Linked DNA regions of Homo sapiens: region 2 is linked to region 1. Evidence: fine-mapped expression QTL. A gene starts in region 1. The other region holds a variant in brackets. All regions are shown on one strand. Distances are between the middles of the regions. Region 1 holds the start of KRT74 (keratin 74). Region 2 holds the start of KRT72 (keratin 72).

Region 1 (15,516 bases):
GTTTTCTCCCTGACAGCCCCAAACATAGTTCCATTACTCAGTTTACCCAAAGCATAGTTCCATTACTCAGAGCACTCCTCGCCTTCCATTTCCTTTTGAAAGTCTTCCCGTGGGGATCAGGAAAGAGCTACAGGCTTCTCCTTCTCTCACTCGCCCCCCACCAAATTCACCCATGGCTACACTCCCGCAAGTCTGTGATTCTCCCTCTGCCCTGTGGCAACATGCCCCCATTCCTATAAGTGTGTTTGTTTTACCACCTCACTTCTTTCACCTGCAACAGAGAGGAACAGGCAGTTCGTGGATGGAGGAAAGAAGTGAGGGATCCTCTCTGTTGCATATATTCAATCCATACCAGTTTCATGATTTATCTTTGATAACAAGCTCTGCTAAGAATTCCTTTTTTCCTTGAAGCCTTGGTTGGAACCTTTCTTTCATTCAGCATGCCCACAAAAGTATTCCTCACATTCACTGTGCAGGTGACCCCTCCCAGGAAGCGAAGGGCTGCTGTGGGAGGAGACCCATTCGGTGACCACCTTGGTCTGGTACAGGGCCTCGGCCTCGGCCTTGCTCTTCAGGGCGATCTCCTCATAATGCATGCGGACCTCAGCGATGATGCTGTCAAGGTCCAGGTCCCGGTTGTTGTCCATGGACAGGATGACAGAGGTCTCACTGGCGTGAGTCTGGATCTGAGCGATCTCCTGCATTGAGAGAGGAAGACAGATTCAGCAACCCCCTGGCTTCCCTCTTCTGCCCCATCAGTCTTCTGGGCCCATGGTCCCTGGCCCAATAGGCTGCTAGGATCCACGGGGACAAAGTAGGGGGAAGAAGTGCCCTCTGGGATGTGTCTGCAGAGCTGAGGGAGAGCAGCTAACAGCAGCAGGAACCCCTGCATATGGCAGATGCCCGCTGGCACATGCAGACGGGTGAATAATGCATTTTCCACAATTTCACAGAATCCAAGGCTCTGTGCTTTGTAAGACCTCACTGGGTTATCTTTTCCTGCCCGTGGGCAAGTCCACTATTGTATCAAGATCAATTTCCTCCTGTATGTATGGCCTCCAAGGACCAGCATCCTGCACTTCCATGGTCTCCTGGTGCAGGGTTTTGTACCTTTCTACCAAAACATCTTTCATTTTGTTGATCCTAAATCTCTCCTTTTGGTATCTCCCTGGAAGAGTCGGGAAGGAGGCAGGGTGAGGGTGGGGGGACAGGAGTGTCCTTACTGCATCATACAGACACTTGAGGAACTTGATTTCTTTGTCCAGTGAGTCCACTTTGGCCTGAAGCTCCACCTTGACTGCGTAGGCTGCATCTGCATCCTGCCAAGAGGCCCCAGAGTCATTGGGGGATGCAACCCTCATCCCACAGCTGCCCTGCCCAACTCCTGCCTCAAAGCCACCTGATTTTCTATTTTCTACCCACAAAGGAAAGCTCACTCAATATCAATTTCTTCTCAGGCTGCCTGAAGCTTTGGGAATAGGGAAAGGAGGATGGGGCAGCTCTGTTATGCCTGGAGAAAACAAAGCCCAGAGAGGTAGTAGGTTTCCTCAGGTCACACAGCAAGGTTGAGCTGGACCCGAGTTTCACAGTTCCCAGACCAGAATTCTGTCTGTCTCTGTCCATTTCCTGAGTGTGTGTCTTTCCTCTCCAACTCACTGGAGGCCAGGACTATGACTCCACCCTCACCAGGCACCAGCCCCCTCACCAGGCACCAGCCCCCTCCCCAGCCTCCTGGGCTGAAGTCCTGAGCAGAGTTGTTAAGATGGGGGTGCGAGAGACCCTAATAAGGAGGCTCCTCCCTCTCTTACCTTCTTAAGCACCACAAACTCATTCTCTGCTGTCGTGCGCCGGTTAATCTCCACTTCATATCTGCCAGCAGGGAGAGTAGATGGCCTTAGCCCCCTTAGCCAAGGAACTTTCTCTTCCTGCTGGCCAGGCAAATGTTTGGGATACAGGGTCCCTGCAGGGTCTCTGGGGTGAGCAGTAAGAGGCTAGTGACAGGAGTAAGATATCCCTGAGTTGCTTCACTTGTCTCCTAGTTTTTGCATGTTAGGAAAACACCCAGGTGCCTATTGGGCTCCCGACACCAGCAACTGAACATTTCAGTGGGTCAAGGAGCACAGGAACCGCTTCCTATCAACTAGGCAGGAAGTTATCATCAAAGAGGATAGGCCCTTCCCCCTAGCCAGAGAAAGGGATGTGAGCTCCTGACCCTGGTGCATACTCCCCCATCTCCTAAAAAATAATGGCACAGAGATCAGGTGAGCCCAGAGGCACGGGAAACATGGTCTGTGACCCTCGGGTGGAGCCTGCTCACCTCTTCTTATAGTCCTCCACCAGATCCCTCATGCTTCTCAGCTCCGAGTCCAGCCTCACCCTGTCCCCAGACAGTGTCTCCAGCTGCTTCCGCAGGTTGCTGATGTAGCCCTCAAGGATGGGCTCCAGGTTCTTCTTGCAGTTGTTCAGGTCCAGCTGCTGCAGCAGCTCCCACTTGGTTTCTAGAACCTGGTTCTGCTGCTCTAGGAAGCGTACCTGGAACCCAAATCAACAGACACCTGGAACCACAATGGGTGCAGTCATGCCCCCTGGACACACACCATTGACTCCCCAGGTTTGCCATAGATTGTTGTAGTCATTTTTGCTCATGTCTTGACTCTCCACCCTTGCCATTCCACACAAACTAGATCCTTTACAAGTGCTCATTTCCTAGCCTTCTGGACAAGGCATCACTGAGAACTCACTCAAGGAGTTTCCACAGCTTTCTTCTATTGCTCGGCCCTGGTCCCAGGAGATGTCCTTCCTTATGTCTCAACTAAGTGTCTCTTCCTGTACCATGAGCCCTTCCCTCTGAACACTGCTGGATTCTATTAGCCTTTCATGTTCTTGGAAGATCCAGCTGTCCTCAAGAAACTCATCACTTTTTTGTCAAGGAAGGGCTGCTCTTTACCCAGCTTCCCATCCTTCCCTGCAAAATCGCCAAAGAAGCCGATATATTCATGTATTCCTTTGTCCTCCGTGGCTCACAGACCTACTCTCCTTCCCTAATGGTGAGGAAGCCCTTCCTGAGGCCCAGCTGCACCTTTCCAGCCACAGTGTGCAGTCCATTCCCAGGCAGCAGGAAAACTGCTCAGGCCTCAGGGTGCGGCCTCATCCTCCTCCTATGAGACCCACCTTGTCAATGAAGGAGGCGAACTTGTCGTTCAGCACCTTGATCTGTTCCCGCTCCTGGGCGCGCACCTTCTGGATCTCAGGGTCCAGCTCCACGTTGAGGGGGGCCAAGAGGCTCTTGTTGACAGTGACCTGGTGGATGCCCCCAGGTGGGCACACAGACAAACATGCAGGCCCCAGGGCCACACTGCCAAACATACTGCCAGCAAAGCCACTGGCCCGGCCCCCTCCATACCCAGAGCCAGGCCTGAAGCCGTAACCTCCAGCCCGAACGCCGCCACCAGCCACATTGAAAGAAATACGCCGATTCCCTCCAAGGCTATAGAGGCTCCGACTGCCAAAGCCAGCGCCAGCCCCTCTGCCAGCTGCACAGTAAGAAGCCAGGCTACCCACAGCCTTCCTTGGCACCACTGCCGAATGCACACTGAAGTTGCCCTTGTCACCACTGGACTTGATGTTCAGTTGCCGACTCATGGTGGGAAAGGTTGAGTTGACAGAGCTGGAGAAAAGCAGTCTCCAAGGGGTAGAGAACACACTGATGGGGCACCCAGAGTGCTGCCTCCTTTTATCCCTGTTGAGCCCAGGACACCGGAAAAGGGCGTCTCTCCACTATCTCCTTTCCCCTGCTGATGGGCCAGGGGCCATGGGCAATTTGTAGAACAGAGATCTCCAAGCCCTTTGCAGCAACAAAGCTCTTCTGATAGCAAGTGGAATATGCTGCCCTTGCAGAGTGGAGTGGTCTAATTTGGAGTTTATCTGTGCTCCCTAATTAAGGACCTGAAGAGTTATCCCCTGAAGAGATCTCCTAGCTTTATTTTTCCAGTGCTACCTCCTTCTTGCTTAACCATCAGCAAGGAGCAGGGGAAATGCCTGGCTTTCCCCAGAGTAGACTCACCTGAAAAACCCCAGGTTTCTTCCCAAAAGAAACCATCTCTCTATTATAGGGTCTTGTGTGGAAGCTGGAATTTTTACCTCAGGGAAAAGAAGACATGGAAAGATGATTCTTCTTGGAAAGATGTCCTCAAAGATCTGGATCTGGGTAAGAAGCTCCAGGGTCCGTCCTTGGGCCATGCTAAGGACCACAGCTGTCTAGCAGTGAAGTGGACCCCAGGAAGGAAGAGGAATGACTCTGCAGCATCTGCATGCCCCCCTAGCAGGGATATTGTCTAGGGCCTTCTGTGTTGGGCAGGGCCTGGGTGGTGGTGACCTTGACATTGCCTTACAACCATGAGAACCTTTCCAGTCAGCTGCATTTCCTCCAGTTGGATTTTCTCTCCTGGATAAGATTATTTGTCCTACTCTAGGAAGTCAGGCAGGAGCTGGGATATTAGCCCCTGCACTCCCTGGGGAAACACCCTATGGCTGAAGTCACCAAGGAACAGGACCCCCTGAGTTTCACTCCCAGGTTCAGGGTGGGCTGTTCTGCCAGTTTCCTGGCAACTTCAGGGAGCACTCAATTTTCAAACAGGAAGTATCACTGCTTTATAGCTCAGGTAGTGTGGGTACAGTGCAATGTTAAAAAATTATTTCAGGGCTGGGCATGGTGGCTCACACCTGTAATCCCAGCACTTTGGGAGGCCAAGGAGGGCAGATTGCCTGAGGTCAGGAGTTTGAGTCCAGCCTGGCTAACATGGTGAAACCCCGCCTCTACTAAAAATACAAAAATCAGCCGAGCGCAGTGGTGCATGCCTGTAGTCGCAGCTACTCAAAAGACTGAAGTAGAAGAATCACTTGAACCTGGGAGGCAGAGGTTGCAGTGAGCCTAGATTGTGCCACTGCACTCCAGCCTGGGCAACAGAGCAAGACTCTGTCTCCAAAAAACAAAAAAAATTATTTCAAAGCTAGGTATCTGGCAGCTGCCCTCATGCAAGACTCTGACCACTTCCTATAACTAAACTGAGAACACTTGGCTTGTTTGGATCCAGCCGAGGGCAGAAGACAACTGCTCCCACTGCTGGGGAGGGAAAAGGAGAAGCTGACCTGGGCAGGGAGCGTGGAGCTTAGGCCTGGAAGCTGCCCCGGAAGAATTTCCCCTTCACAGGGTGTTTTCCTCTCAGCCCCTGAGGTAACGGTGGAAGGTCCTTCCCCAGGGACCCTGTCTCGGGGGGCTTTCCCGGCAGGGCCTAGCCCTACAGCACAGGAGCATGTAATCGAAGGGGTTGCTTGTGGTTTTCTAAGTCAGGTTGCAAGGGCAGCAGCAGGGGTGCCGCCAGATGCTGGGTTTGCCGCCCTCCTGTGCTGGAGTGTGCAAGACAAAAAATGGCGTGAGTTCCTTAACCTGGGGGTGACTGTCCTAGGGCCCCAGCCACCAAGAAGCCTGCAGACCAATGAGAGGAATCTACACAAAGAACTTAAAGTAGAGCCAAAGCTCTGGAATGACAGAAAAGCATTATGAACCACGAATCAGAGGTGCACTGAGGAATGGCTCATCTTGATTAGGGTTTTTGGGGATCTCCAGAAGCCAGGCTTATATTCCCAACAACGCCCACTACAGGTGCTGGCTCAGAGTAGTGGCTCAGAGGTAGTGGGGCTGGAAGTATTCCTTATGGCAGTAGTAGCAATAGTGGTAGTAACATCATTGTATAATAGTGATGGTAGTAACAGAAAGTGTTAACACTTATTCTTCACTTCACATGTGCCAGGCATGGGATGTCTACATGGGATGTCTCACTTAACCCTCTTTAACTAACTTCATTTACAGTTGAAGAAACAGAGGAACTTACCCATCTCACTCAACTAGTAAGTCAGAGCTGGGCCGGAATTCAAGTGCGTCTGGTTTCAAAGTGCATGTTCCTGACCATCGTGTTATGTGATAGAGATGGAAGTTAGTGGCAAAGATGCAAAGACATTGTGGTACATGTGGCAGGCATGGCAGCTGTGGGCTGGGGACCTTGTGCTTGTGTTTCTGTTGTTTTTGATTCAAGTGTGACATGAGGAGAAGGGGAGGTTGTTGCTGAACTAGGGGCTTGCAAAGGGTAGCTGCTCAAGATAAGACATCACTCTAGGTTCAGAGAGAAAATCAGCCACAGCAAGGATGGGCAGGGGGAAGGAAGAGACTTGCTTTCATGAGCGGCTGTTTTATTCTAGAATCACCAGCAGCTGGCCCTTCATTGCCCGGCTCCGAGGGGAAATAATCATAGTTCTGGCTAGCTGAGTCTTTGCGCCACCACTGCCTGGCTGACTATGAGCCCCAATCTGATAGGAACTTCAACGAAAAGGCATTTACAAAGCAGAAAAGGCATGAGGCTAGATCTTTGAGGCTGGAGAAGACTTAGGGTAAACAAAAGGCAGATATCCAGGTGCCCAGGGAAATGCAGCAGAATGAATGGGGTCCATCCACACTCAGAAGTGATGGGCTGGGGAGGGCCAGGACTAAGGCTAGGGGTCCTGGCACCCTTTGTATTCATTACAAAGGGTGCCCCTGTGGGCTGGGCCCTGTGCTGGAGGCTGGCCAGTAAGGGTTGCTGACAGCGGTGGTAATGATGGTGGCAGAGTGGCTGTGACGGAGAAGGAAAAGGTAGAGGCAGAGTAGAATTTCCTGACAACAGTGTTGTGATTGTGGCCACACAGAAGCAATCCTCCTAATTGGTTCCTAGGGAGCTTAATTGCAGGGGAATTGCCTTTGGCCTATGCAGTCAGATCCCTAGAGTTCCAGCCTTCACTGTTTCGGATACCCTTTAATTAGTAATCACACACCACGCCCTGGTCTTTGAGTTCATTGGACTAATGAGTGTCCCAAGTCCTGAAGAGATTATTTCATTAAATGCATATAAAACTGGGCATCTACTGTGTGTTCAGCTCTATGCTAGACAGGGGGAGATGTCTGAGACACTCTCTTTCTCTTTTAGGAAGTTAATTGAACTGGAGGACAAACAATATAAACATACAAAAGTTGTTTTGCTGTTGTTATTGCTGTAGTTTTAATTCTACATGCCTATATTGGATTATGTGCTTGAACAAGTAACTCAGACAAGCTGTTCATTGAAATTCTGATCTAAAAAAAAAAGAATTTAAAAAGTACATGAAAATCTACTTTTTGCTTACCCTAAATCTTCTCCATCCTTGAATTAAAAAGAAATGGAAAAATAGAATAAAAGAGAGGTTGGGCTCTCTGAGGTAGGGGTTGCTAACTGGAAGGTCGGCCAGATTGGGCAGGTGCATGGGGCATCCCTGAGACACCGAGAGGCCCAGGCGGATTATAAAGGAAGGCTCGACTTGGGAAGCAGAGATGGAGGCAGAGATGGCGGCGCAGGCCTAGACAGTTCCCTTCTCCCTGTAGACAGTGTGGCATCATGCGAGGGTCCTGAGGGGAAGCAGTTTCACAGGGCCAATGCTTTCCGTTAAGGAATAGGCTCTGTGTTGCAAGAGGAGGGCTGTGGAAGACACAGGTACCCCAGGGAACCCAAGGGAGCTGAGTCAATTGGGCCATAATCTCTCATCATCTTCCTGGAGGATAAGAATCCCCTTCTGCAGAGCACCTCACCAGAGGGAAATAAAAAGCAGCCCCGTGAAAAATCCCAATGGCCGTAACCATCATGTCTGTAGTTTGAAGATGAATAGTGAATGTCATTTTTCTCTAGCCCTTTGGCCTTTGACTGCTCCTGGGCACAGAACAACAGTTGAAGGACCCAAATTCTGTAGATCAAGGTCATTAAAGAAAAGAGAAAGAAGGCCAGGCATGGTGGCTCACACCTGTAATCCCAGCACTTTGGGTGGCCGAGGTGGGCAGATCACTTGAGGCCAGGAATTCCAGACCAGCCTGGCCAACATGGTGAAACCCCATCTCTAATAAAAATACAAAAATTAGCTGGGAGTGGTGGCACTGCCTGTAATCCCAGCTACTTGGGAGGCTGAGGCAGGAGAATCGTGTGAACCCAGGAGGCAGCGGTTGCAGTGAGCTGAGGTTGTGCCATTGCACTCCAGCCTGGGGCACAAGAGCGAAGCTCCATCTCAAAAAAAAAAAAAAAAAAAAAAAAGAGAGAGAAAGAAAAAAAGAAGCTTGAAGGATTCTTGAGCTAACTTTGTGGGGACAAGACCTGGGGACAAACCACAGCACCTTAGCACTGGAAAGGACCTGAAACTGAGTTCTCTGATTTCCCTTTGAAAATAAGCTAAGTGCAGAAACCTAATACCCTCTGCCTGTCTGAACCGGTTTGAAAGGAGCCTGTTTTTCCATGCTAGTCCAAAGTTAGCTAGCCCAGACAATAGAGTTCATCTGCTTTTTCCCCATGTGTCTCCCAAAACCCTTCACTTTCCTGACATTAAATTTTCTGTGCCAGGAGTCCGATGACAGATGGGATATGCACCAGAGACATGGGCAGAACCCACTGCTGCAATCCCAGGCTGTAGACATGGCTTGGGGCCTAGTTGGAGTGGGTGTGGAGAGTGAAGCAGAAAGCTCTGTGTTGGTGAGTGGGGGAAGAGGAAACTCTAGGCACAGAGGAATAGGAAAAGCGCCCCAGGCAAGATGATAGGGATTATCTAGATACTATTTTGTAGAGTACTCAACTATCCCAGTTTTCCTAGGGCTGAGAGGTTTTCCAGAATGTCCGACTTTCAGTGCTACAGAAGTTCTGGAAAGTTCTGCACTGTTCTGGAAAAAACTGGACCCTTGAAAACCAGAACGTCATTCACCATATTGGAGAGCTCTGAGTACCCGACTCTCCAGTGGACCCTAAGGATCACTGAAGTCACGTCTACCAAGCTTGTAAAACTTAAACACTCAAGCAATCCCTGGTCTGTCTCCATCCCTACTAGACCCCCTTTTCCCCTCACACACACTCTTGTTAAATGAATTCCTCAGATTATGAGAAGAAAGCAGGTGGCTGGATGGCATCAATTTTTTTTTAATTCCAATCCCTCTCACTCAATGCCTATTCTGCTACAGGCACTGTGCTGAGTGAAATCCCAGACAGGCAGTCAGCATGGTCAAAATTCCCATTTCTTGGTGTCATATTAGTGTAGAGCATATTGTGCAGTAAGCCTCTATTTATTAAACACTTAGCAGAGGATGTTTAGTGACCTGAAACCTGGCAGTTTCCTTATCACTGCTAGTCTTATGGAACTTTCTACCTGCACCTCTCGGGGTAAACGTGGGGGAGCTGCATCTCTGCAGACACCCTTCTCTGAGTCTAGGACCTTCCCCACGTCTTCCCAGCATGGGTGTCTCCCTCCTCTCTGCTGCAGCCCAGCTCAGGAGGGGCATGCTCCACCCTTCCCACCTGGAGAGAGAAACATCAGAGCAGTTTAACCAAGTGGTTGCAGGGCCATATGGTGCCTTTATGCCAATCATGAGAAAAAGGCACCCCTTCCTCTGGGCAGACGCAGCCCTTTCCCAGGGTGCATGGCTGGATTTCAGCCTCTACTTCCCCCGCACTGAGACTTAGTGCTCAGCACAACCTGCACGCCCCTCCAGGGCTGCCCTGGTAGCTTGCCTAAGTCTTGGGGATGGGCTCACGTTCCACAGATGAGTTGGAGCCTCTGGTCAGAGCTGTCCTCCTGCACAAAGGGTCATGGGAGCCTCCTGGCTTCCCCGAGTACTTGCCTCCTTCTCCAGGGCTGCCTGAGATCTGTCTGCCAGTTCCCAGGGTCTTTCCTCTCTGATCCCTGGGGAAAAGTGGTGGTCTCCCAGCTCCCTCATCACTGGAACCCCCAAGGGCTTGTCCACCAGGAACTCTGCCCCGCCTAGCTTTTCTCTGGCTTGGGGATCCGCGGACTACTGTTCATTGTTCCAGCCTGAGTATCCTTTTGTCTTCAGCACCTCCTGGATTGTCTCTCCAAGCTCCTCCATTCTTGGTTCTCTCCCTGCTCGGGCTCCTAAGGTTTTTATGATGGAACAGGCCCCTAGCCACTTACTGTAGATCAAACACTCTTTAGTTCTCTTTCTCTCCTCTTTTTTTTTTTTTTTTTAAAGAAAAGCTCTTTGAACTCTTTACGACTCTACCCACCACCTACCTAGTCATCACAGGGAACTTTTCTCAGCTCCAGTGCACATAGGTATGTGAAGACAAGCACTGTCTTGCCCTGGGAAGGACACATTTCTTCCATTTGTTCATTTTAAAATTCCACTAGGCCCCCATCTGGGCACTATTTAATCCATCTCCTTACCTCAGACCCCCTCCACCTCCCCTCCAGCCACTTCAGGAAGAAATTTATATTGTCTGACACCCCAACCCCCTTTATTACAGGATTCATTTTTGAAAGACAACAGGGAGGCTGGGGGAAATGCCTTAATCTTTTGATCTTCACTGTGAAGTTTGATGCTTGATCCACCTCTTCCTCTGCCCATTTGCAAAGCAAACAAGCAGGCTGTGCATTGGGCTGTAATTAAGCCACATCATCACTAATGACATGCTCTCTATCTCCCATCATCAGAGCATCATACAATCCATCCAAACAGGAAGGAGAAGCCCAGCCCTGCACCGTCCCTGGGGAGTGCTGGAGTGGTGGGTCAGGCCTGGGGTGGCAACTGCCTCCAGTGTGGAAGGAATGACCAGCTTCCCTCCCTGGGCCCACATCATATCTGAGCCTGCTGGGCCCTGGGGAAAGGTGTTAAGAAGGGACAGGAGAAGGGAAGAGATACCAGGCAGGGCAGAAGCACTAGGGGCCTGGACCACCATAGGCAATGTGGAAATTGGGAGGAAGAAACATAAAAGTAGCACATCAAGAAGAAATAGAAGAAGTGGAGACTTTAGAGAAAGGAGCTAGGGAAGGCTGGGTCAATGAGGAGGGGAAGTTGCTGCTGAGGGAAGGGCTAAAAACAGAGAGAATGGAGGATGAACCCCGAGGCTGGGGCAGGGGGCTGAAATGAGCCTTTCAGAGCTCCATGGGAGACACATCCATGCAGCCCCACCCTGCGGGTGGAAGGGATGGTTGGCCTGCTGGATACAGGGAACCTCTCACTGCTGTGGGGTGAGGGACCCTCAGCACCACCCCACCGATGCAGACCTGCCATGGAATTAGAGGCTTGGGTCCGTGGGGCCTAGGGCAGGCTTGACGCTGGCACCTGAGCCTCGGGGTCAGAGAGTGAGCTCCTCCATCTGGAGCCAAGACCACAGCCAGCCCCTTTGGAAAGTTCTATCCCCCTCTCCTACAGAAAAGGAGGCAGGAGATGTTGACACCAGGAGACCAAGTCTCCATCTTCCCATTGTCATGGGCCCCCGCTGAGGCAAGTGGTGTCTTATGCAGGGCTATCAGGTTGGACACACAGCTGTGGGTTCAGGAGGCAGGTTATGAAATAAGCCAGGAGTCTGCAGATCCAAGAGTTGGGGAGAATGACTCACATCATGGGGAAACCCGTCTGGAAGTGAGAACCGGTGAAAGCAGGTCCTGGGTCCTGGTGGCTCCTATTTCAGGGAAGAGGAACAGGGGCAGCGTGGAGCAAGGGTGGGGGCTGCATGTTTTAACAGGGGGCCAAGGAGAAGGCTCAGAGGAACCAGCAGCCCTTCCAGGAAGAGAGAACCTTCTGGAAATGGATGTGGGCTGGGAGGCTGGAGGAGAATGTAATGGGACTGGAACGGAGCCAGAAGCTAGCCTGGCAGGTGTGCCTCAGGTTCGACGAGGCTTGCTTTGCACTAGTCACTGTGCTAAGCTTTTTGCACATTTTAACTCATTTCATCCTCACACCAACCTGTCAGGTAAATACTCTTGTTTTTCCCACATTACAAGTGAGGAAAGAGAAATTGAGCAGAGAAACTGAGTTGCCCACATTGCAGTTATAACTGGGAAAAGAAACAAATCAACAAAAGGATTCAGATCCACACCTGGCCGACTGCAAAATGTGTGTACCTCCACACTGGACTTCTAAGGTCCCTTTCAGTCCTATATCCACCACGCTATGGTTCAGTTCCTGAGCTCGGAGCAGCTTTAATCTAGAACTTGAGCTGCATCTGGAGTTCCAGGAAGAAGAATCTGGAATCTCTCCTGGAGATGGACGAATTGGAAGCAAGAAGGAGGGATTTCGAGGATAAGCCCTCTAAGAGGGGCCTGCATCCAAACGGGGATGCAGCGTGGACGACTTACCGGGGAGGAGGGATGGACAAGCCAATGGCAGCTGGTTTGCAGGAGAGGAGGGACCCTCAACATCTCTGGTGCTCCTGGAAGCTTTGCTAAATGTGAATGTAAGAACTGAGGGGCAGTGCAGAACAATTGTCCTTTGTGTAGTTGCCACTCTATAGGTGGCAGAAGTGGCAGAGCCCCTGAGATGGAGATTGGAAACAGCTGGCAAAGGGCGGCTCAAACCCCAGAGCAGCTGCCAAATGGGACCTAAGCAGTCTTTAACAAGCTCCCTGTCTCCAACAATTCACATCCCTGTTACCGCCTCCTCCAGGAAGCCTTTCCAGATTGTGTTCCTCTCTCAGGCCTTTCTTCCTATGGAGCCCCCTGGCTGTGCCTTGCCAGTGCCTCCATGCCTGGCTCATCTACTGCCTGAGAAAGAAAGAGTTCTCAGAGGAGGGAGGGGTTTGCACACTGTGCAGGCAGGGCTTAGGAGAGGGGGTCTCAGCTGAGTCATGGGGGCCCTCACTCCAAGGACCTCTGGATCAGCACCAAGATTTTCAGGAAAAGCTGTCTGAAGGCCTCAGGTTCTCTAATAAGAGGTGTGGAGGTTCAGGCAGCAGGCAGCATCAGCCCCTGCCCCCTCCTCCTTCCTGTAAGAGGAGAGGCCAGAGAGGAGAGGAAGAGGAGACAGGAGTCAGACCCAGGCAACACAGAGGCTGGGGCCAGCCTGGGCATGCCAGGGAGTGAAACAGCATCCCCTCCCACTGGCAGCTCCGCGAGGGGCGCAGAGCCTGTCTAGGGTCATCCCACGCCCTCTCTGCTGTAGGGAAGTCTTTCCTCCAGAGTCACAGGGGTAGAAAGTGCAGTATCCAGGACCAATGGCAGAGGGCAGTGTGTGCACAAAATAGAGGCACCGAGGGTTTTTCCCCTGCTTGGAAATGAACAGCCAGTGAACAGATAGGAATGTATTTTAGTGAATGGACCCAGTGCCCTCCACCTTTCACTTAGCCCATCTCGGCCAGGTCTCTGGGCAAAGTCCTGCTGTTGGTCCACACCTCTCAGACATGAACCAGCCCACAGCCAGCAAACACAGACGTATGCTTTAAAAATACTAGTAATAACAGTGAGCATCTACAGGTGTCAGACTGTGTTCCAGGCACTGTTTTACTCCCCTTATCTCTTTTCCTATTCTCTGATCTCCTCTAAGGTGAGTTCTTTGAAAGGTAAGGAGGTGTCGAAGCCAGGAGCATAGACTCCAGAATCAGACTGGAATTCAGATCCTCCCATTTACTAACCAGGTGACATTTGGTTAGTTACTTAACTCCTCTGAGCTTCAATATCCTCACAAGTTAAATGGACATTATAATAATCGCATCTTATAAAAATAATACATGTCAGATTGTTGGGAGAATTAATTGAGTTACCAGCCATAAAGTGCTTACCAGAATGAGTGCTGAGAACAGTTTCTGGCAACAGAAAGCACTTCATAATGGCCAGCTTGTATTTATCTTCTTTTACAAGGGCAGGATCTTGCACTAGGCCACTACTGGCAATTAGAAGAGCTAGGATTCAAAGCTAGGTATATGACTCTTCTGCCACTATGCTAGGCCCAAGGGGACCATTTATCTGACAGTCCTGGCTTTGCCAGTTGTCCAAGGATCCACCTTAGTATTTATTTAGATCAAAAGTGTCCCAGTTTGAGTGACTGCCTGCACACAAATGCATATAAGACACAAATTTATTAACACAAATATGTCATATCACTTGCATACCAGACAATTGAGACATGGGTATGTTGTGTGTATATCCAGCTCTTTTTCCCAGGGAAGGTGGGCTAAACTAAGGCATGCATTCCCATGGTAAAAGTGCTGACTGCAAGCCGGACCCTGGAACAAGGGGATGTAGGGCATGGAGTGAGGGACAGACATGTGAGCAGCTGATATGACACCAGAAAAATAGAGTGCCGGCTTTAACACAGGCTCAGGACAGGGCTGTGAGTGTACAAGCCACTGGTCCAGCCCCGGCTGCTCACCAGTGGTGTGAACATGGACAGGTCACTCAGCCATCTGGGACTCGGTTTGCCTGCCTGTAGAATGGGGGTGTGGGGTAGGGAGGTGTTGGGCCACAGCTGTATTGATCCTTCTCATGTAATGCTTGAAGATGGATGGGTCCACCTGGAGGGACCAGGCACCACAGAAATGTGGGTGGTGGAGTCTCAGCCAGGCCACACAGGTGCGCAGGCTGTCCATCACGGGTAATGGACATCTGAGGTTGAGAAAATGATATGTGCAAAGGCCCTCAGGTGTGAAAAGTCTGGCCTGCATGGGGAAAGGCTGGAGAATAAGGTGGGAAACGACACGGGGGAGACAGGATCTCGGGCACTCTGAATGCCATCCTCAAACGAGGTTTGCACTTGAAAGATGGTCTCGCATTAAGGGTTTTTTTCAAATCAACTGTGCTAACTGACTCTGAGAAACAAACATTCTTGCAGAAACACACACATACACACACAAACATACACACACATACACATACACACACACGCAGAGCTAAAAGAGCATCCTTGAATCTCTCAGCTTCTTACTCCACTGAATTTTTCTTCATAGTAGTTAACACTGCTTGACTTCATATTATATATTGCTTTGGTAGGTGCATATTTTCACTCTCCCTCTATGGGGCCAGTGTCTGTGCCTATTTTGTTTATTCTGGTATTCCCAGTGCCTGAGCAATGCCTAGCTCACTAAATATTTGTTAATTGAGCACTATTTCATATACACCTTAGATAGAGAGGCTACAAGCATATATACACACAGGCCTTACATGTTAGGGTGAAAAGGAAGTTGGTTAAAAGAAGAGGAAGACAGGGCCATTGTGTGGGAGCAGGACTGGGGAGTGAGTGGTGGGTGGTGGAGAGTGAGACAGTGGGAGAATGAAGGGAAGACCACTCGCTACACAGACAGTGAGTGTGCTCAACCATGGGTGCTTTGAGAACCAGAGCAGGAAGCCATGAGGAAGCTCTAACATCTGTATCTATCATGGGGTAATGATGTCTTGCAGGGCTATTGTGCAGAATAGGTGGCACAGGGCACGTGAAGCAATGGGCCTGCCCGGCCCTGGCCTCAGTAATACATTTCAACTGTTTACAAGGATCAGCCCTCACCCAGTGCCTACCTGGCTAAAACCAGTGAAGAGCCACATGAGCCCAGAGTGAAGCAAGAATCAGATGAAGAAAAGTTAAGGCACTGCAGATGGTGACATCCTGGGCAACAGATTCAACTGAGAACCAAACAGATTTAATCATTTATTGCAGAAGAAGCAGAGGACTGGACACAATCCCAATCAGAAGATGAA
Region 2 (14,268 bases), 21 kb after region 1:
ACACACACACACAAACACACGCACACACACGTACACATGCACACATACTGAGAGGGTGCTAGCTGTGGCCAGTGGGACTCAGCACACCTGGCACCAGCTCACCTTGGTCTGGTACAGGGTCTCAGCCTCGGCCTTGCTCTTTAGGGCAATCTCCTCGTACTGGGCACGGACCTCGGCAATGATGCTGTCCAGGTCCAGATCCCGGTTGTTGTCCATTGACAGGACGATGGACGTGTCGCTGATGTGGGACTGGATCTGAGTGATCTCCTGGGGACGGTTGGGGGAGGGGAGCTAGTTAAGGGGTACTCATGAGGAACCAGTTCTCTTGGTCCTCCCTGGGCAAATTCCTCACTGTCCCTCTGCCTTTCCTCAGCGTTTGAACTCTGCCTCAGCACCAGTGCCTGGCAGGCACGTGAAGAAGTGCCTTAGGCTTTCAGCCCCAAACGCTGAGACTCCTCTCTCCATTGCACACTCAGGAGCACTCCTGCACCCTTCTACATTCTCATCCTCAGAAACCAGCCACCGCCACCCTCCACCCATAGGACCAAGTCTGAACTCTTTACCTAGCATGTGAAGTCCCCTAGGGAGTCACTAGCACCAGTCCCTTCCCCAGGCCTCTGCGCCCTTCTTCATTCCTCATGCTTTAGCACAGGACAGGCTCCTGGACCTTCTATTTTTCTGCCCCCCTCAGCACCCACTGAAATCGTCCTCTTTCTCCTCTCTCTCCAAGAACCTTCACTGATGGCCCAGGCAGAACCCACCATTCCTTCCTCTGCTCTCTGAAAGCTCAGCTACGTGGTGTTTTCCTGCCAAGCTGTGAACTCCTGGAGGGCAAGAATCACTTCTTCTCTTTCACGGACTCCTCAAAACCTAGCTCATTGTTCAGCACCCAGTAGGGCCTTGGTGAATGTCAGGGGCACCAGGTTGAAAGCTTTCTCCCTCCCAATTCTTGGTCCACACCACCTTCCAGCCAGGGGCCAGAAACCTCTTGTTAAAGGAGCAGATCTCACAAGAGAGGTCAGCCAAGTCCTTACCCCTTCATAAAGGCACTTGAAGAATTTAATCTCATCTGTCAAGGAGTCCACCTTGGCCTGGAGCTCAACCTTATTCATGTAAGCAGCATCCACGTCCTGGGAGCACATGATAGTCAAGCCGCCCTGAGAGGGCCTCCCCTGCCCATCCCTCCCTCCCTGCCACAGGAAGCCTTGCTCTTTCCTCTCCCTTCACCCTGTGCTTCATGGGGGGCTCCCTGAGAGTCCCCTTCAGTCCCTGAGAGTAAACCAACTAACGTGCAGTGCAATGGCTACACCAGTAGTGCAGTAAAATGCCCAGATTTTAGACTGGCAAATTCTAGAAACAGCATGCATCCCAGGCAAGGGACTTGGAGGGAGGGGCTGGGAAGTTAGAGTGCCAGTCACCCCTGCCCAAGGGACTGAGTGACCTACAGGGCCCCTTTCCTCACCCTACAAGCATCATTGTGCCAGGTGGTCAGGTCTAGGCTTCTTCCAGCCCACCTGGCACCCCTCTTACCTTCTTGAGCACCACAAACTCATTCTCAGCAGCTGTGCGTCTGTTAATCTCCACCTCATACCTGCATGGGGCAAGACAATGAGGTAATTCAGTTCTGCAAACACTCACTGAACAGTTAGTGACCACCTCTGTGCTGAGAGCTGCAGGGTGGGGGTCTTCAAACTGGGATTCCCATACCCCTGGGGCACACATAACCTTGCTTAAGAGGATGCAGGCAAGGACATAGTTAAAGGAATCAATTTCCAGCTCCTTTGTGCCTGTGCATTCTGTCTTAAAACTACCTGCCTCAGAGAGCACCTGTGGTTGAGATGTCATGCAGACTCTACTGTCCCTCTCCCTGTCACAATTAGCCCCTCCCACATTATAGCAGAGGTGAAAAGACACTCCCTTCTGGCACATGGCATCTTAATACTGTGCAATGGCTCAGGGTGCAAAAACCTCCTAGGCACCAAACAAAAGCACCATTCTCACTTTCAAACTGTATGTTATACCTATTTCTTATACATATTTCTGTTCCAGGTGAAGCAGAAACAGAAGCAAGGTCTAAGACACAGAAATGTGGTTAGGACTGGGATGTTCTTAATACAGACATATTGTTGATTGGGGAGGTAAGAGTACTAACCATTTTATTTAAAGAGCTTACCTCTTCCATCCCTTATTATTCTCAAAGAATGCATTACAGGACATTTGTGAGAGTATGGTAACGAAATAGAGCATTGGTAAGAAATAATTAATGCTAAATGGATAAGCAAAATGTGGTGTATACATACAATGGGATATCATTCAGACTTAGAAAGAAAAAAAATTCTACAATATGCTACGACATGGATGAACCTTGAGGACCTTTTGCTAAGTGAAAGAAGCCAATCACAAAAAAGACAAATATTCCAAAAGACAAATGATCTCATTCATGTGAGATACTTAGAGTAGTCTAAGTCAGAGACAGAAAGTAGAATGGTGGGAGCCAGGGGCTAGGAAGAGGGGAGGGAAGAAATGAGGAATTAGTGTTAAGTGGGTATACAGTTCCCATTTCACTAGATGGAAAGCGTGTTCTGGAGGTGGACAGTGGTGATGGTTGCACAACATTATGAATGTATTTGATACCACTGAACCGTCCACTGAAAAATGGTTAAGATGGTAAATTTTGTTATATGTATTTTACCATAGTAAAACTTTGAAAAAAAGAATTAAGGCTAGATAGTAGCTTTTTTATTCATGTACTTAACATAAACAATCCTTTTCAGCTCTTCGCTCATTCCTAAGGCATGTCCCTGGAAGCCCCCTCCTCAAAAAGCACTGTTGAGTGTGGCAATTCCTCAAGGATCTAGAACTAGAAATACCATTTGACCCAGCCATCCCATTACCGGGTATATACTCAAAGGATTATAAATCATGCTACTATAAAGACACATGCACACATATGTTTTTTGTGGCACTATTCAGAATAGCAAAGACTTGGAATCAACCCAAATGTCCATCAGTGATAGACTGGATTAAGAAAATGCGGCACATCTACACCATGGAATACTATGCAGCCATAAAAAAGGATGAGTTCATATCCTTTGTAGGGACATGGATGAAGCTGGAAACCATCATTCTGAGCAACTATTGCAAGGACAGAAAACCAAACACCGCATGTTCTCACTCACAGGTAGGAATTGAACAATGAGAACACTTGGACACAGGAAGGGGAACACCACACACCGAGGCCTGTTGTGGGGTGGGGGGAGGGATAGCATTGGGAGAAACACCCAGTATAAATGATGAGTTAATGGGTGCAGCAAACCAACACAGCACATGTATACATATGTAGCAAACCTGCACGTTGTGCAAATGTACCCTAGAACTTAAAGTATAATAATTTAAAAAAAAAGCACTGTTGAATGGCTGAGCAGTGCAGGGTAGTGAAGGGAGCTATTTCAAATGTGACTGGGATGTTTTCTGAGGCTGCAGATCTTTCTAGTTATGCTATATAAAACACACAGAAAGCAGTTTATATGATTTATCCCAGATTCTGTGTCTTATTCAAAAGATAACTGAAACCTTTTAATCAAATTATGTCATGAAACAGCTATTTCTATTACAGTCAATCTTTATTTTATATTATCTTACAAAAAGATTAATAATGTCTACCCCCTCTTAATAAAAATAAGACATATGGTAGTTGCCGGACCAATTAATTTTTAGTAGTTTATATCTATTTCCTAAAATACATAGAAAACTTTTGACCAAGTGGGCTATCAAAATCAATGACATTAGCTGTAAATAATTTTACATTATTTACTTCTAGAGGCCAAACACCAGAGTTCAATACACACATTAAAAAGAAAAATAAGTTTTATAGCATTATTAACTTAAAAATAACTTATTATTTAAAAATATATTACAATGAATAATTAAAAGTTAAATCATTAAAAAGTACATATTGATTTCTCTTGTTTTATAACATAAATAGTTATATTAGTTATATTAAATCTAAATCATTTTAATCTTGAATGCTTTCAATAACCTATTATACAAGACATATTTCTTAGTTTATTCTGAGTGGATTTTATAACAGTCCCTAAAGTACAAATTCTTACTTTTACTTGAATTTAGAAATGAAGTCAGGATTTTTCTGATGAAAAGCAACTCATGTCTCTGATTTGAATATGAAAATTGGTTTTTCCAATGAAGCTAGAGGGCAGATATTTTCTATATAAATTGAATGAGGTAAATCTGCAGCTCCAGAGTTTCAAAAATGTGCCAGTGTGTGTATTCGTGTACAAAAACATGAGGCAGAATCACATTATTTTTTAAGGATAAAGAATTGGCATAGGTGTATTGAGTACTAACAATGTTTTATGTTTCCAGTTCTTTCTGATCCATTGGATTAAACGTGGTGCTCCTAAAGGACAGAATAAGTTGTATAAGCATGGCCATTTGATCAGTCTTGGTAAAGCCTTATTGAAAAATTTTCCAGAAATTTGGAAGATAATGACTTTACTGACTAGGAAACAAGTTCTTTTTGCAAGTCAGATGGTTTTTAATTTTTGCTTTCAAAAAAAGAAGGATTTGAATTGTCAGCTGACAGATGGTTAAACATGATCTTTAATGGTGAGTCATTATGTGATTTTGACATGTAATCATTCACCTAAGAAAATATGTGTTGAGTGTGGGGTACTTTGTAGGCACAAAACAAAACAAATATCCCTGCCCTTAAGAAGCAGAGAGAGACAAATAACAAACACAACAAATAAGTTGTGTCAATCATGCAGCATGTTAGAAACAGTAAGCACTATGGAAGAAAGAAAAAGCAGAAAAACTGGAAAGGCATTCCGAGAACTAAATAACACTGGGCTTGCAAAACTCCTTCCATTAAAATCTACTTCTATAATTAAAGTTTCCCAGCACTCACCTAAGAATGGAAAACACACAGGACTAGAATCCTATCTCAGCTCAATAAGAATCAATATTCATACATGGATAACTAAGCCACTTAGAAAAAAATCTGCCCCATTCAACTCATTAGGAAAAGTATTTTCAATTTTTTTTCATTTTTTATGTTTAATACTTATTTAACAAAATTAGCAATACATTTCGTTGTTTGGATAACTCAACCCAAAATAAGTCTTTTGACATTTAAAAACTTATGATCACAAAAGGTAAACTTTCTTTTTTTCTTTCTTTTTTTTTTTTTAGACAGAATCTTGCTCTGTCACCCAGACTGGAGTGCGGTGGCTTGATCTCAGCTCACTGCAACCTCTGCCTCCCAGGTTCAAGACATTCTAATGCCTCAGCCTCTGAGTAGCTGGGAACACAGACGCACGCCACCATGCCCGGCTAATTTTTTATATTTTTTGTAGAGACAGGGTTTCGCCATGTTGGCCAGCTGGCCTCGAACTCTTGAGCTCAAATGATCCACGTGCCTCAGCCTCCCGAAGTGCTGGGATTACAGGCCACAAGAAGTAAACTTTCTAAGGTTTCGAGATACATGCATATTTTGTGATAGGGTGATCAATAAAAGACTTAGAGGCATAAAAATATATTATAACAAAATTATGTGGGGAAAGTGGGATGAAAATTGGAGTCCAAACAGGAAAAGGATCAAGGTAAAAGTTATGATTTTTAAAGCAGAGCCCATTCATTGGCTTTTTAGATGAAGGGTGATGGGCGCTAACCTGCTGCAGCACCTGGATGCAATTGGGTACATCTCAATGAGTGATGTGGCTATTACAATTTTAAATGGGAACACACATAATACGTTTGAAATTACACCCTTTGAAACTACTTACACTTATGATTAAAAGGTTGTAGTTTCAATTTTTTAACTGTGAAATGTTTTAATTGTGAAGAGTTTTTTAAAATCATTTTAGAGAGCCTATGAGAAAAGCTTCAGCGTATACAATGATGCTTAAGACATATACACTGTGCATCTTCTAGAAACTCACAGTTTAACAGGAAGGCAAATGCACTGAAAATTCTAATTCAACAATGACATATGATTAGCATTTCTTATGATATATCATAAGAGAGATGCAAAAACCTGGCATGAGGACCCACAGGTGGAAGAGATGGGTGATAAAATCAGTTTTAAAATACTCCTAGTAAATGCAGCTAATATTTATTGTACCCCTTACTACATGCTAAACACTGTGCTAAATTCTTAGCACAAATTATTTCATTTAATCCCCACGACAGCCCTATGAAGTAGATTCTATTATTATTCCAATTTTATAGATGAGGCAAAAGACATGAAAATACTTGGCCAAGGTCAAAATGCTAGTTACTAGTGAAGCTAGGATTCAAATCCAAGCCTTCTGACATAGGGAAAACAATGCCTTACATTTGTGTAGCACTTGGATTCTTTTCAAAGCTGCTAATACACTACTGTCTGGCTGGCATTATCCTCTCAATAGCTCTTTTAGGTAGCAAGGCAAGTATCAGTATTTAGTTTTCATAAATACTAAAACTAAAGTTCACAGAGGACACAGAGACTCATCTGTGGTTGCTCAACTAGTTCATGGTGATTCAGGAGCACAAAGCCACTCCAGTCTGAAAGGCCCAGAGATAGCACTGCCCCTGGACGCCTCCATGTGGGACTTCAGGACTGTGTCTGGCAGCCCCCTGTTCTTTCCAGACCCTGCTTGCATCTCTAGTTGGGCTCCAGTTCCCATCTTAATTCCACCTATCTCAGTTCACACCATATTTGTTTCTTCTTGTTGGTGGCTATCTGAAACTGTTCTTTAAGCCTGTCCTCACAATCTGTGTGCTCTCTGAGGTCAGGGACCGTGTCTCCTCCTTCCTTAGGTTCTCCATGCAGGGCTTGGGCCAGGGTTCTGCTTTGAAGGAATTTCAGAATAGGGATGGGCAGGTAGATTGAATATGGAGCAAGAGAAAGAACTCAGCTCTGACGACCTCCAGCCACTTGAATTGTGGAAGAAGCCACCTGTCCCTAGAAATCCTGGCATCTGGAAGCAAACTTCCAAAATATCAGGTCACACTGAGCCTTGATTTATTACTGTCTCATATTCAGCTCAACTTGGAGGAGGACACAACCTCTGGTTCCATCTCATTCTCAATCATCCTCAAACATTCTCAATTATTCTCTTTAAAGCCAGGATTCAGCAGCACAGCCATGATTCAACATGGAATAAGTTTTTTAAATTCTTTTTTTTAGATTTAAAATTTGCCCTGGAATTGGTGGGGTGTCTTACATTCTGGGAACTGCCATGGAAAACTTCACTCAGGAGGAACTACAAAGGCATTTGGGTTGTCCATCTGGTTTTGATACAACTCTCTTTCCCCCATTCCTTCATTTTCAGTGCTAGAAATTGAGCACACATTTCCTCGACAGTTTGGAGAACCGGTGTAGGTAGATCTATTCTTTTCCTAGTTCCATTCTGTCTGGATGTTCCTCCCTCCCCCGGTATCAGCAAGGATCTCAGAAGCAAAAATGCCATCTCCAAACGAAAACCTCATTTGAAATCAGATCCTCCAGGGCCATATTCCCTGCCACTCACTCACCTCTTCTTGTAGTCCTCCACCAAATCCTGCATGTTCCTCAGCTCCGAATCCAGCCTCACCCCGTCCCCAGACAGCATCTCCAGCTGCTTCTGCAGGTTGCTGATGTAGCCCTCATAAATGGGCTCCAGGTTCTTCCTGCAGTTGTTCAAGTCCAGCTGCTGTAGGAGGTTCCACTTGGTCTCTAGCACCTGATTCTGCTGCTCCAGGAACCGCACCTGGAACCCAAAGGCAGTCATCGCCCAGAGTCCCCATGTTGTTGCCTCTCAAGAGTGGGGAAAGGGCCCCAAAAACCAGAGGCAGCCATCCTGGGGGACTGGGGGTAGGAGAAAACAAGGCTTATCCCGGGGTGGATTCAGCCGAGGGACATGCTCACCTGGATCTCCAAGACAAGAAATAGGACCCGGTCTATATGGAATCAGGAAGAGGGCTTAAGCAATGGTACCATCTGCCTCTGCCTCAGTGAGTTTTCATGAGACAGAGGTAGCTTCTCATGCTATAAATGCTGGTGTTTTCTGAGTAAAGAGAAATGGGGAGCAGGGGAGAAACAGGGACTGGGGAGTGACATTGGAAAGCACACTGGCATTTAGAGCGTTCCTCCTGTTGTGTAGCCTAAATTGCACTTGGTTTGTTCATTTCTTTGTTGTTCACAGCAAGTTACCACATCTTCACAAAGTTCCTTCATACTTGACCAGGGTGCACATTTTTAGACTCAATAACTCCAAGCCCTCTGCCACACACCAGCATTCCTCTTCTCACCTATCTTTCAGCTTGAGGGGCAGAAGGAAACATGCTAGGGAACAACAGACATAAAAGAGCAAGAGAATGCTCTGGCCTCTGGAATAGCTGCTGTGTTTCTTCCATGCAGACCTGTGCCCTCCCGCCACCTCAATTCCTCTTCCCTAGCATAGTGGTGACACTCGGTCCACCACCAACTGTCCTGTCCAAGGTGAGCTCATTTCTTAGCCTCCCATGTCTTAATATCCTCATCTGCAAGGCAGAACAACAACAGAATCATGGGTTGTGATTGTAAATGAGAATCACTTGGGACGGCACCATAAATGTCAGCTATTGTTATCAGGCTGTCCCCTTATCACTCACCGTCTAGACCTTCCATCCAGGTGGAGACAAGAGAAGTCCATTCCCTGTCTCCTCTCCACTCACTGGGGTCATTGCCTCAGAAGCTCCAGAGACAACTTCCCTATTACCCCAATTTCTGGATGCCCCACCCTCAGCACACACCTGTAACTTTACATGCACTCTTTCCAAGTGCCTCCTCAGCCTCACCCTTCAGTTTTCTGGCCCTTTTCTCTCACCTCCTCTATCATCTTCCTGGCTACACACTTACCCCACTCCTCAAGCACCAAGCACCATGTCCTGCAACGTCTCTTGGCCTCTGTTCCTAATGCCCTGCCCTGAATGTGGGTCCCATCTCCTCTTCTGATATTGGGAGCTCTCAAAGTGCCCATTCCTTGGACATCCTGACCCCTCCCTTCTCACAGTCTTGTCTCATGCAAGAAAGAAATGAAGGTCCTTGATACGTTTTGGCTGTGTCCCCACCCAAATCTCAACTTGAATTAAGTCTCCCAGAATTCCCACGTGTTGTGGGAGGGACCCAGGGGGGAGGTAAATGAATCATAGGGGCCGGTCTTTCTCCTGCTATTCTCCTAATAGTGAATAAGTATCACGAGATCTGATGCGTTTATCAGGGGTTTCCGTTTTTGCTTCTGCCTCATTTTTCTCTGGCCGCCGCCATATAAGACGTGACTTTGGCCTCCCGTTATGATTCTGAGACCTCCCCAGCCATGGAGAACTGTAAGTCCAATGAAACCTCTTTTTTTTTTTCCCAGTCTCGGGTATGTCTTTATCAGCAGCATGAAAATGGGCTAATACATCCTGTTTATTGGAAGTATGTGCCAGGCACTGTTCTGAGCACTTCGTAAACATCCCAATTAAG[C/A]CTCATCGCAACCCACTGGAGTAAGACCCATTATTGTGCCCATTTTACAAATGGAAAAGGGAGGCTCGGAGAGGTTATGACCCGCCCACGCTCCCACACAGCTCGCCAGTGGCAGAGCCAGCACCACTGTGCACATGCGCCCAACGCAGGGACAGGCCAATGCCCGAGGACTCACCTTGTCGATGAAGGAGGCGAACTTGTTGTTTAGCGCCTTGATCTGCTCCCGCTCCTGGGCGCGCACCCTCTGGATCTCGGGGTCCATCTCCACGTTGAGCGGGGCCAGGAGGCTCTTGTTGACGGTGACCTGAGGGATGCCCCCGGGTGGGCACACGGAGGGACACTTGGGCCCCAGCCCGGCGCTGCCGAAGGCGGTGCCCACGAAGCCGCCCAGGCGGCCGCCGCCCCGCCGTGCAGCAGCGCTGAGCGCCAGGCTTCGGCTGCCCCCAAGGCAGGAGAGGCTCTTGCTGCCAAAGGAGGCCGAGCCCTTGACCCGGGCCCGGAATGAGGCGGAGCTGCTGCCGATCCCGCCAGAGAGGACCGCGGAGCAACCGCTGAAGCCCAGGCGCTCCCCGCGGGGGAAATGGGTCAGTTGGCGGCTCATGGCTCGCAAGTACCGGTGCTGGCCGCGCGGGAGGCAGAAGGGGCGCAAACAGCCGCTGCGTTCTCGGCCCAGCTCGCCCCTTAAATAGCCTGGCTGGCTGGAGTCAGCCTAATTTGTATGTCGACAACACCTTTTAGATCCCTTGAGGCCTCTTGGGTTCTTCATGTAGGAAATTACCATGCACTCACCGAGATTTTTGTCTGTTCCACCGTGAACTCCCCATGAATCCCTGTAAAGTGACCCAGAACCCAGCATTTACTTGGCTCACCTCCTGCATTATCATGGCTTAGCGACCTTATCTCCACCTGCTGGCCTCCAATTACTGGGGTTATCACTCCCAAGATCACCCCTGGAAACTTCCAGTGGGGCTGACCCTCTGGGTGTGTGTCTGGGGAGACGGAGGTGTGTGAAGCAGAAGTCCAGGCTGCTTCTGCTTCAGAAGGCCATGAATAGAGTCAAGACTATCGCAGAAAATCATCCTTAGCCTGTCCTCCTCCTGCCTCCCAGGCTTCTGGATGAGGACAGCTCTGTCCCTTGTGCAAGAAGGAAGTTCAGAAGGAGGAGATTTTGGCCCCGTCTGCAGAGACCTCTCAGTCTGTTGGAGAAGGCAGGACACAGAGACCTCTGGTCACAAGTGTTGAGGGTTGACTTTGGACCAGAGCGAAAAGATTTCTCCACTAAGCATTTCTGGACTAAGAATGGGGACCATGCTATCTGGGAGGGAGGGAAGAAGGCCTGGGGAGGTGGTACAGGAAGACTCAGGCATGGTTTAGCAGATGGTGTTTCCTAAGGCTTTCGGTTGTTTTCATTTTTGTTTTCTTTTAATAGCAGAAGAGGCTTATTTATCCCATCCAGCAAACCTCTGCTCAGGTCATTTGCCACCCAGTCATTTCTGATTCAGCATCAAAATGTGATCAGTTATTAGGAAGAGGTCAAGACTCTTCAGATCTAAAACCAAGAACTAGATTCTAGAACTTCATTCCCTTTAAGCTACAGAGGCTCCTTCTTCCACCTAACCCGATTTCCTTTTCTCAAACTTAAGCTGCCTTCAAGTCTCCTCCTCTCTTAGCAACAGCTCTCCTGTTCCTCTGGCATGCAGGTGGGATTATTTCATTGCTCTTATTTCTTAAGCTGCCAGAGTCCTGGGTGTGTGTTCCATTTCCTCTATCAGATTGACAGGGCCCCCTGGATTCACCCTTCCCTCCTCTGCTCCCCCAGTGCTCAGCCCAGGCCTTGGCCAAAGGGACATTTAGGATGATTGTGAAACAGCAGAGTGCTTAGGGCAAGGCTTGTTACTGCACCTTCAGTGATACCCTGAAGGCTGGGTTCCCCTTGGGGACCTCATGGGTTGGTTAAATGGTACCTGGGGGTAATTGGCTGACATAGCCTCCACTGGGCCAATGACAGGACATAATAACAGCCGAAGCGTTTACTCCACGGGGAACAAAGTTGTGAGGGCATTGTTAAGCGCTGGAGATGGCACCGATCACAGATGAACAGATAACGGCATCTGGGTGTCCTAGGTGGGAGAGAGGGTGGGCTCTCAGTGCTGCCTCAGAGGAGGGGCTGTAGTCCCTTCCCTCTGAAGAGGAGAAGGGCAGTGTCAGTGTGGCTGGGTGACAGCAGACCCTTCAAGAAGATCAAGGTTATGTTTTTTATTATTACATGAGATTTTCCCTCTACCCCGTAATTTTAGCCAGTTTTTTTTCCACAAGCACAAAAATGAATTTATTTATTCCAGCCATTGAGAATAGAAAAGCAAGGAATGGATTACACTGAAAGAGGAGAATTTTTACGTAGGATTGACTGACAAAGGGTGTCTTTGAAATAATTTTTTTTTTCTTCCTAGAAATTTTCTAAGGAGTTGAGATATCCTGGGACCAGGGCTCTTCTGCCCAGGGTTAGGGAACTGTAAGATGACCTTTTCTCATCTTCCTATGAGGGGTTGACTGGCTGGATGAATAAGGAATTCCTCAACCCCTGAATCACCTTTATTACAGATCATGAGGAGACACAAGTGACACATGCAGATTTCAAAGGCCTCAGATGTGTGGGGATGTCAGCAGATCAAAGGGGGTTGAGGCCTGGGAGGAGGGGTTCTCATTGCCTCTGCCTCTGACAGCAGCTTACGGTGTCACCTCAGGCCTTGGTGACCACCTCTGTCATTAGTTCTTGGGTTAAAGCAACCCCTGGATTAGTAAACCAGACAAGGAACATTGCCCTTAGAAATCAGATCTTTACTACAAAAGACGGATGAAACCACTCTAGGCTGAGAATTGAAAATGCATTGCTGGTTAAACTGGGTCTCCTTGCCCTGTAACACTACTTCTTGGGAAGTTAATAGGTATCATGGGAAAAAAAGATATGGGAATGGATTCTGTGCTTGGTTTAAAAAAAAATGAAGCAGGCATCTTATTGCAGGACTTTCTAGGCCCATTAACATGCTTAGTGCTAGAGCAATTTTAGGGCAGTGAACTATTCTGTACAGTACTGTAATGATGACTACATGTCATTATACATTTGTCCAAACCCACAGACTTCCCAGTGAACACCAGTGTAAACCAGGGACTTGAGGTGATAATGCTGCATAAGTGTAAGTTCATCAGTTGTAACAAATGTACCCCTATGGTGGGAGATGTTGATAAGGAAGGAGGCTATGCATGTGTGGGGGTAAGGGGTAAATGGGAAACCCAAGTACCTTCCACTCTATTTTGCCGTAAACCTAAAACTGCTCTAATGAATAGTAAACAAATAAATGGATATATAGATGGGTGGGTGGGTAGATGGATGAATGGATGGACAGATGGATGGTATTAAACCATAATAACAGAAAAATGCATGATACTTTCTGTTGCACAAAAGGGTAATACAAAACTTAATGTTTTTCACACCTGATGGCTGAGAGGTGAACTTGTGAATGGGGCAGTGTCAGTGGGTTTTTTTTCTATTTTTTAATATTTCTGAATTTTCTAATATGAGCATATAATGCTTTTATAAATAAGTTATATTTTTCAAAAAAAAAAAAAACTAAAGATGAAAGGAGAGGGAAGTTGATTCTAGAATCGGAAATAAAGTACTGTTCTTGTCACACACAAAAAACCCCCACAAAACTCAGTGTTTTCCAAACCACTTTTTAGGCCATTGAGCCCTCTCTTTGGCCAGATACTTTATGGGGCCAGAGTTTCAAGGAATATACTTTAAGAAACACTAAACAAGATATCTCCACTTCACCATTAAATTGACTTAAATTTCCCAAATCTGAAGAGACTTACAATATCTCCCTAAAAACATGAAGGAGACCTAAATATAATAGGCAGGCTTATCTAGTTTATGGCAATATGGCCAGGGTTGTATTGTCCAAACCAAAGGGAGGTAGTTTGCATGGACTCCTGAGAGCATGGCCAGCATCATCCCTGCACTGGCCAAGGGAGAGAGAATTCTCAGCCTGGTGATGAGCATTGGGTATCTAGACTGAGCAAGGTGAGCCACAGACTGCCAGAGCTCACCAAATAACCTTGCTCTCCTCTCACTTCCCAGCCTCCTTTGCAGTTCTGGTGGGGCTTGGGGTCATGTGACTAGCACTGGCCAATGAAACATGAGTGGCATTGAAGTGTGTCATTTCTGGGGTAGGGCAGTAAGCAGGTCATGTGCCTCCTCCATCTCTTTTCCCCTGTCTGGTGACCTTGGAGTTCATGTGTCCCATGTGGCAGGGCTACAAGGCAGAAGAGCCTGGGTCCCTGAGACACCCAAAGGGAGAACCACACAGGGCAGCTGCCCTAACCTGCCTTGGACAGTGAGTGAGAAATAAATCTTTGCTGTGTTAAGTTAAGCTGCTCAGATGTCAGGGTTTGTCTCTTGAGGCTGTCAGCATTCATTATATGAACCCAAGCTTAGAAGTTAGATGGCAGAAATCTTACATAATAGCGAATGCTCTGTATCCTAAGTTCATGTTCTCAAACAATCTTCTGATCACTATCAGACATTCTCTACTTCCCTTCTCACTTCAGTTTCCTGACAGAATAGTCTATACCTAAAAACAATAGGGGCAGCCATTTATGGAGCACTTACTATGTGCTAGAAGAACTAAATAATTCTCGTACATTATTTCATTAAATTTAATTCTCATGACAACTCTATGAGGTAACTCCAATTATTAACCCCTTTGTACAGATGAGAA

The links. PIP is the estimated chance that this variant, and not a neighbour inherited with it, causes the effect.
Region 2: its variant is fine-mapped to the expression of KRT74 in whole blood (TOPMed, PIP above 0.99).

The regions. Positions count from the first base shown.
Region 1 is chr12:52,570,136-52,585,651 of GRCh38, forward strand. KRT74 (keratin 74) reads right to left here and starts at 3,708. Exons shown (of 9, transcript NM_175053.4): 1 at 3,172-3,708; 2 at 2,318-2,532; 3 at 1,809-1,869; 4 at 1,224-1,319; 5 at 534-698. The coding sequence starts at 3,642. It overlaps KRT72 (keratin 72), which reads right to left. Exons shown (of 9, transcript NM_080747.3): 9 at 15,454-15,516. RefSeq lists enhancers at 2,133-2,302, 14,903-15,072 and a cis regulatory region at 14,988.
Region 2 is chr12:52,591,362-52,605,629 of GRCh38, forward strand. It overlaps KRT72 (keratin 72), which reads right to left and starts at 10,102. Exons shown (of 9, transcript NM_080747.3): 1 at 9,666-10,102; 2 at 7,537-7,751; 3 at 1,531-1,591; 4 at 1,035-1,130; 5 at 103-267. The coding sequence starts at 10,091. The variant C/A (reference allele first, on the strand shown) is at 9,491.